2 linked regions of the Homo sapiens genome follow. The protein of the gene in region 1 interacts with the protein of each later gene in a pairwise test. Each region holds a gene or a part of one and is shown in the gene's direction. Other genes may lie near its edges.

Evidence for each region.
Region 2: the proteins of MDH1 (region 1) and CHRM2 interact in a two-hybrid assay, tested with the Homo sapiens proteins (one large-scale study listed by BioGRID and IntAct).

What each region holds. Positions count from the first base shown.
Region 1 is NC_000002.12:63,598,803-63,602,629, forward strand, and holds part of MDH1 (malate dehydrogenase, cytoplasmic), read left to right. Parts: intron 1-367; coding exon 368-490; intron 491-3,827. UniProt on the Homo sapiens protein: Catalyzes the reduction of aromatic alpha-keto acids in the presence of NADH. Plays essential roles in the malate-aspartate shuttle and the tricarboxylic acid cycle, important in mitochondrial NADH supply for oxidative phosphorylation.
Region 2 is NC_000007.14:137,014,878-137,018,704, forward strand, and holds part of CHRM2 (muscarinic acetylcholine receptor M2), read left to right. Parts: coding exon 1-1,389; 3' UTR 1,390-3,827. UniProt on the Homo sapiens protein: The muscarinic acetylcholine receptor mediates various cellular responses, including inhibition of adenylate cyclase, breakdown of phosphoinositides and modulation of potassium channels through the action of G proteins.

The sequences.
Region 1 (3,827 bases):
TTCAAAGCGTCCTTGTTCGTGAGAAATATTTGCCAGCACTGCACTACTTAGAGACAATGAAGTATCTTGTCTACAGCTTGTCAAAAGAGGTACCAAAAAAAAAAAAAAAAAAGATATATGGGAGTCAGTCTCTGTAATATGGTTGTAACTTTTCTATAAATCTGATATTATTTCAAAATTTTTTATTACCATTTTATAAAAGATTTTTATAACTTAAAATGCATTTTCCTATGCTATATTGTATTTGGTGTTTCCCAAGCCTCCCCTGTACAAAGGCTACCTGTTAGACATTTTCAGTCAAATTTTAACATAGATTAGTTAGTAACTATATAGTCTGTAACTCTTCAGTGCCTTCCATTCCTCCTAGGTTATTGTTGTGGGTAATCCAGCCAATACCAACTGCCTGACTGCTTCCAAGTCAGCTCCATCCATCCCCAAGGAGAACTTCAGTTGCTTGACTCGTTTGGATCACAACCGAGCTAAAGCTCAAGTAAGAAAAATATATTTTAAATCTTGTGGTTGTTCAACTTTAAAACATTTTTCTCTCACTTTTAAAATAACTGAATCTGAGTTTGTGCTTTTTTCTTGTTTTTGTTTAGTAGGAACCTATTACTTTTATTAAATTAAAAGTAAATTATTATTCATTTGTTAGGGAGTCTTTAAATGTATTCTCTTAAAGGACCAGAGGCTGGACTTCCTACTTGATTTCGTCTTTAACTATATTTCAATTGCTAACTATAATGAAATGCAGTTACTAATGTTCTCTTGTTACAGTGGTTAAAAATTAGTTATACATGATGGTACATAATTTAGTTTAATTTTTTCAGATACATATAATCTCATATAAACAAAGACTTGAGCTTTGTGTGATTGTGTGGTTCTGCTTCTATTTTAGCTGCAGCTAAGCCATCAAATTCAGATTTTAATTTTTAATTTTATATTTAATTTTCATTTTATGTCTTTTTAATATTCTATGTGTATCTGTAAAATTTCCTCCTTTCACTACTTAGGAGCTAAAGTCTGTTGCTAATTTTCTTTACTCTTAGAGCCATAGATAAGTATGCCAAGGAGCCAGTGACCAGGGAATTAACAATAGCTTTTCAAAAAATTAGAAGCCAGGCAACTGATCTGAGCTAGTTTCCTAGGCTTTTTCAGATCTAACTGGTCCTGGTGCCCGTTCTTGGACAGAACCTCTTTCCTTTGCCCTAATGCTTTTCTGGCCATCCCTTCTTGTCTGTAGGTCATCACTGCTAGATAGGTCTATGAGTTCAGTGCTTTTTCTTCTAGAGAAGATAACTTTAGTTTCAAAAAAAAATTGTTGTTAACCAGAAGATGCTGTGAGGTCTAAGCTGAAGCACTACTGCCCTAACCTGAGAATTAATAATCCTTCAGCTCTGGAATGCCTAGTGAAAGAGAAAAGAATATACATTTGTTAAGCATCTACTGTAAATTGAATGCTATACATGTAATTTTCCATTTAATTTTTATAGTAACCATATGGGTATCTCATATTATCCCTGCATTAGGTAAGAAAACTGAGGCCCAGGGAAGTCAGAGAACCTGCTCAGAGTCATACAGCTCATAAATTACGGAGCCACCTTGATTTGCCTGACTCCAAACCCTTATGTATGTTCTTACCTAATGGTATCAACTAACCTTAGTCCACTTACTAGCTCTGTGATTTTGAGAAAGTATATTCAATGTTTAAAATGTAATAATTGTATCTACCTCAGAGAGTTCTTATGAGGATTAAATAAGATCTGTTTTAAGCCCTTAGCATGGTGCCTGCACATAGTAAATACAAGAAAGGTTGGCTGCTATTATTAGTTGATTTCTTCTTTCTAAGAAGCATACAGCCTAAACATTCCTAATTTAGAGGGTTGTTGGATAACAACCCTTAAATTTTTAGCTTAAAGTGCAAATATTCCCTGAGAGGCTATAGGCTGTGAGCTGGGTCTGGTGGTAGCTGAGAACGAATAGGAGTTTGTTTGAATGGCAGGCAGTTTGAGTTCTGTGGGACAGTTGTAAAGGAAGAGATATTATACATGTTACAGTTGCAAACTCTGGATTGCCAGAAAGTGACTTATTTAGTTCCTACAACAAGAAAGTTCCTACAACAATGACACTAACAACCACTTTTTGTTGTTTCACCTGAGGCTTTGGTGGAGACAGGCATTGGAAAATTCTGCTTCCAAAGGTACTTCAAAGAGATACTTTGTCCTGGTGCCTGAAACAGTTCTCACTGCAGGGCTCAAGTCTGAATGAGCAAAGAGGAAAGAAAGTGCTATCTCCTCAGACTTTAACCTTCACTTGGGGACATGTTCTTTGTTACTCCTGGGACCTTGGCTAGGCATTGTTTCAGCATGTCAATCTGGCATAGTGAGAGCTTTTAGGGAGTCATTGAAGAAGCACTTTCTTCCTCTAGAAGAAGTTGTTTATCCAGTGAGAAAAATAACAAACCCAAAGATAAGTTTTTCTTACAGGACTGGTTGCTAGATATTTTTGTCTTGGAATTCAGAGGCCTTAGCGACTTAGGGACTGTTTAACACCTGCAGAACTTGCCTGTGTATTTGCAAACCAGTGCTGTATTTATGTCTGCTGATAAGGTAATTTGACATTGATACCAGATAAGGTAATTTGACAATGATACCAGTTAGCTTGTAAGAAAATTACTAGGGCTGGAGAATTAATCAAAAACTTTTAACAGACCTATGTGACAGACATGAGTGTCTAAGGGAGCAAAGAGCTGTTATCCTGGGTATGTATTAATTTAGACTAATTGTGACATGAATCATATTAAGAAACTATATCTGCTGGATGCAAAGTACCTGGCCTTTGCTGTCCAGACAGAACTGGATTAGCTCAAGAGATAGAAGGAGCAAGAGGAGGAGGGCAACAAGAACAAAGGAAGGCATGGGAGCCAAGGAGGACTGAGGGTGGAGAGGCCTAGAGGCATTTTGTCTTCACTGTACTTGGGAGCATTGAAGCAGACATTCAGGGAAGTTATAGGCTCTAACTTCCTGGTAATATATATCTTGAGTTAATTGTTCAAGGTATAAATTTATCTTTTTCTATATACCATACCAGCTAAATTTAAGTATAAATATAAGAGCAGTTTCTTCCCCAGTTCTTTCTGGTCATGGCAGACGTAAAAAATGGTACTCATTGAACAGCGTGCCACTCTACCCTATCCCACAGGCTAAGCAGATCAATAGCTGGGTACCCCAGAAACCCAACTGTGAACTAATTTGTGGAGACTAATGCAAATATTGTAGATAATAGTCCTAATACTTGCAAGACTTGCAGGGATTAGATCGGTCAAAAGTGATTTACAATATCACAAACATAAATTTTTAAGTAAACTTTTAACTATTTTAGGATTTAAGAAAGCAGTCTCAACTAGTTTAAGAGTGGGAGTGAAAGTAAAGACAGTTTACTTCTTACTTAACTGAATAAATTAGTATGAAGACCAGTCGAGTCATTGCAGACATTTTAGGTAATGGCCTTTTTTTTCATCTTTATCCTTTTCGGTTGGTTGGTTGGGGTTTTTTTTTTTTTTTTTTTTTGCTTTTTATTTTGAAATAATTTTAGACTCAAAAGTCGCAAAAAAATAGTACAGAGAAGGCCCATGTACCCATCACCCATTGATGGTACCTTACATAACTACAGAGTATTATCAAAACCAGGAAGTTGATGAACTACACAATACTATTAACTAGACTTACTGAAGTTTCACCAGTTTTATATTCACTTATTTTTTTCTGTGTCTTTATGAATGATTCTATGACATTTAATTACAAGTGTAGATTCCTGTAACTGCCCCCATA
Region 2 (3,827 bases), on another chromosome or scaffold:
ACAAACTCCTCTAACAATAGCCTGGCTCTTACAAGTCCTTATAAGACATTTGAAGTGGTGTTTATTGTCCTGGTGGCTGGATCCCTCAGTTTGGTGACCATTATCGGGAACATCCTAGTCATGGTTTCCATTAAAGTCAACCGCCACCTCCAGACCGTCAACAATTACTTTTTATTCAGCTTGGCCTGTGCTGACCTTATCATAGGTGTTTTCTCCATGAACTTGTACACCCTCTACACTGTGATTGGTTACTGGCCTTTGGGACCTGTGGTGTGTGACCTTTGGCTAGCCCTGGACTATGTGGTCAGCAATGCCTCAGTTATGAATCTGCTCATCATCAGCTTTGACAGGTACTTCTGTGTCACAAAACCTCTGACCTACCCAGTCAAGCGGACCACAAAAATGGCAGGTATGATGATTGCAGCTGCCTGGGTCCTCTCTTTCATCCTCTGGGCTCCAGCCATTCTCTTCTGGCAGTTCATTGTAGGGGTGAGAACTGTGGAGGATGGGGAGTGCTACATTCAGTTTTTTTCCAATGCTGCTGTCACCTTTGGTACGGCTATTGCAGCCTTCTATTTGCCAGTGATCATCATGACTGTGCTATATTGGCACATATCCCGAGCCAGCAAGAGCAGGATAAAGAAGGACAAGAAGGAGCCTGTTGCCAACCAAGACCCCGTTTCTCCAAGTCTGGTACAAGGAAGGATAGTGAAGCCAAACAATAACAACATGCCCAGCAGTGACGATGGCCTGGAGCACAACAAAATCCAGAATGGCAAAGCCCCCAGGGATCCTGTGACTGAAAACTGTGTTCAGGGAGAGGAGAAGGAGAGCTCCAATGACTCCACCTCAGTCAGTGCTGTTGCCTCTAATATGAGAGATGATGAAATAACCCAGGATGAAAACACAGTTTCCACTTCCCTGGGCCATTCCAAAGATGAGAACTCTAAGCAAACATGCATCAGAATTGGCACCAAGACCCCAAAAAGTGACTCATGTACCCCAACTAATACCACCGTGGAGGTAGTGGGGTCTTCAGGTCAGAATGGAGATGAAAAGCAGAATATTGTAGCCCGCAAGATTGTGAAGATGACTAAGCAGCCTGCAAAAAAGAAGCCTCCTCCTTCCCGGGAAAAGAAAGTCACCAGGACAATCTTGGCTATTCTGTTGGCTTTCATCATCACTTGGGCCCCATACAATGTCATGGTGCTCATTAACACCTTTTGTGCACCTTGCATCCCCAACACTGTGTGGACAATTGGTTACTGGCTTTGTTACATCAACAGCACTATCAACCCTGCCTGCTATGCACTTTGCAATGCCACCTTCAAGAAGACCTTTAAACACCTTCTCATGTGTCATTATAAGAACATAGGCGCTACAAGGTAAAATATCTTTGAAAAAGATAGAAGGTGGGCAAGGGGAGCTTGAGAAGAATAAAAGGGATAAACGAGCTCCTAGTTTTAAAATCTCTGCCATTGCACTTTATAGTCTGATTACAAAACGTGCAATTCAGGAGCCCAGCAGTGACACACTTATCACGCCTAGGCTCCAGTTTGCAAAAATTGCACCTTATAAACTGTCAGTATTAGGAGCAATGAGACAATGAAAGAAACATGTTGGGATCGTGGATTTAAGAAACTATACACTGTTTCTCATAATCTCTTGAAGAAGGGCTTCTGATTCTACAATTTTATCAGTCTCTGCACAAGAGGAATAACCTTGTTCCTTTTTTGTTACTTTTGTTGTTGTTGTTCTCATGTGTCCTTAAGAGAAGGAAATGCCACAGTTACAAGGTAAACATGGAGACTTAAACATAAAGAAATAGGCACTATACAATGGGGACATAAAAAAAGAAAATCAAAGAAGGATGCAGAAATTGTCTCCGGAGTGTTAAGCATATTTTATTCTTTTGTTACGGTCCTATTTAGAGGATTGGAATGTAATAAATGCTTATTTTTTGCCTTTCTTTTTCCCACCATGAAGAGAAAGCAAACAAACAGAAACCCCAACTAGGTCACACCATTTTTCTTCTTGTTATGCCACTATTTTGTACATCCCTGTTCTATATTGTTTATAGGGAAAACCTACAGGACTTTCACTAAAGCTAGCCAGAGACAGCCATGAAAATGGACGTTTCACCCCTCCTCACTGTGTCCTTTGCATTCGTTGGGGATATCAAGGTCTATAAGGATTTAGTGCACTTATAATCCTATATGCGAAATGTTTAAACCAATCTGATTTTCTCCTAAATAGCCTTTTATATCAACAGAATATCCTACCTAAAACATAAACCTGTTTAAGAAACCATCGTCACTGTAAAGTTGAGGTTTCATCAAATTAAATAATGGACTATCTAGTTGGACCAAGTTTATTAAAGTCAGGTGAATTTTAAGATTAAAAAATAGAAGTTTAGGACTTTCTATTTCAACCTGAATTTGCCTGACCCATGTATGAAATGTTAACTTATAGAAAATGAACTCCTGACTTTCTCAGCAGAAAGGAATGCTGTTTTATTTATTTGGAATCCTAAACAGGATTAACATACTCACATAGCACCAGTGATTTCTGGGCCAGTCCCTAGAGAATAGAACCTTCTATCCAATGCCTGCTAAAGGATGATATTCAAATTATAACCAAGTGAGGATGTCTGCAATTATCCTATGACCCCATGAAAGGGGAAAAAACGATATTTTAAAAACTATTACTGAAACAATTACATATTCCATATTCCTCAAATTGTCAATTCTCCCTAACATTATTTAACTTCAAAATTCTCTTATCAATAGAATTATAGTAATCTTTGTGACAGAAATGTAGTGGCTAACTAAATAGAGGCCAAACGAGCTTACAGAATCTGACAGAAGGAGGTAGGTGGCTGTTGCCATGCCACATCTCACCATCTAATTCTAGACCATAATAATCATGTCAGGAACTATTATCTAAGTGGTGGCATTATATAGAATCTTGCCACGTAGAGATTTTTTATTTGGTCGTCTAAATAAATATAGGATTAGGATTATACGGATTCACATACAACTAGTTATTTTTATCCTTTATATTTTTCTTACAGTATTTGCTGTAGTTTTCCAATGAGATTTTCTAAAAATGGCTCAATCAATGGAAATCAAATTATAAACGCATTTGCAAATTTCATATTTTGGATTTTAGATTTATGATATCTTGTTCAGTAATAATAATGTTAGTTACATGGTAAATTTATCAATATTAGACCCCAGCACTTAAAAGAATTATTTTGTATGATTAGCCTCATAGATGCCACCTCAACATTTTGGAGAGTTAAGGAGGAAAAAAAGCATGAGGGAAAAAAAAAACCAAAAAACTTATAAGTTAGTAAGAAGCAAATTGCCAGCAGTATTTATATTTGACTTATCCTTCGTAAAAACAATTTCCTGTTTAAATAACTTCAGTCATTACCCCCCCAAAGTAATCTTCCATATTTAAAGCATTCATTTATAGAGATTCCCTTACCTACAGTTACTTCAACATGCACTTTTACATTTTAAATTCATATTTATTTTCATATTGTTTCTTCAAATGAAGGAATCAGTTGAACGGAAATAACGTCAAGCCAGTGGGCTCCTCGAGTTTCTGAAAACCAGAGAATTGACTAGCCAAGTATTTCCCTTTTTAATGTATTGTATTATTATTATGTAGATTTGGCTTCAGTTGGGAAGAACCCTTTGGCATCCAGGATTCAGGATTCAGGGTCTTTTTTTGTTTGCTCTAATAATCCAACGCACCATGAATCAAGCTTTTAGTCTCTGCTGCCATTGTATCCTTCCTTTTCCTCCCTCTGTTATTGA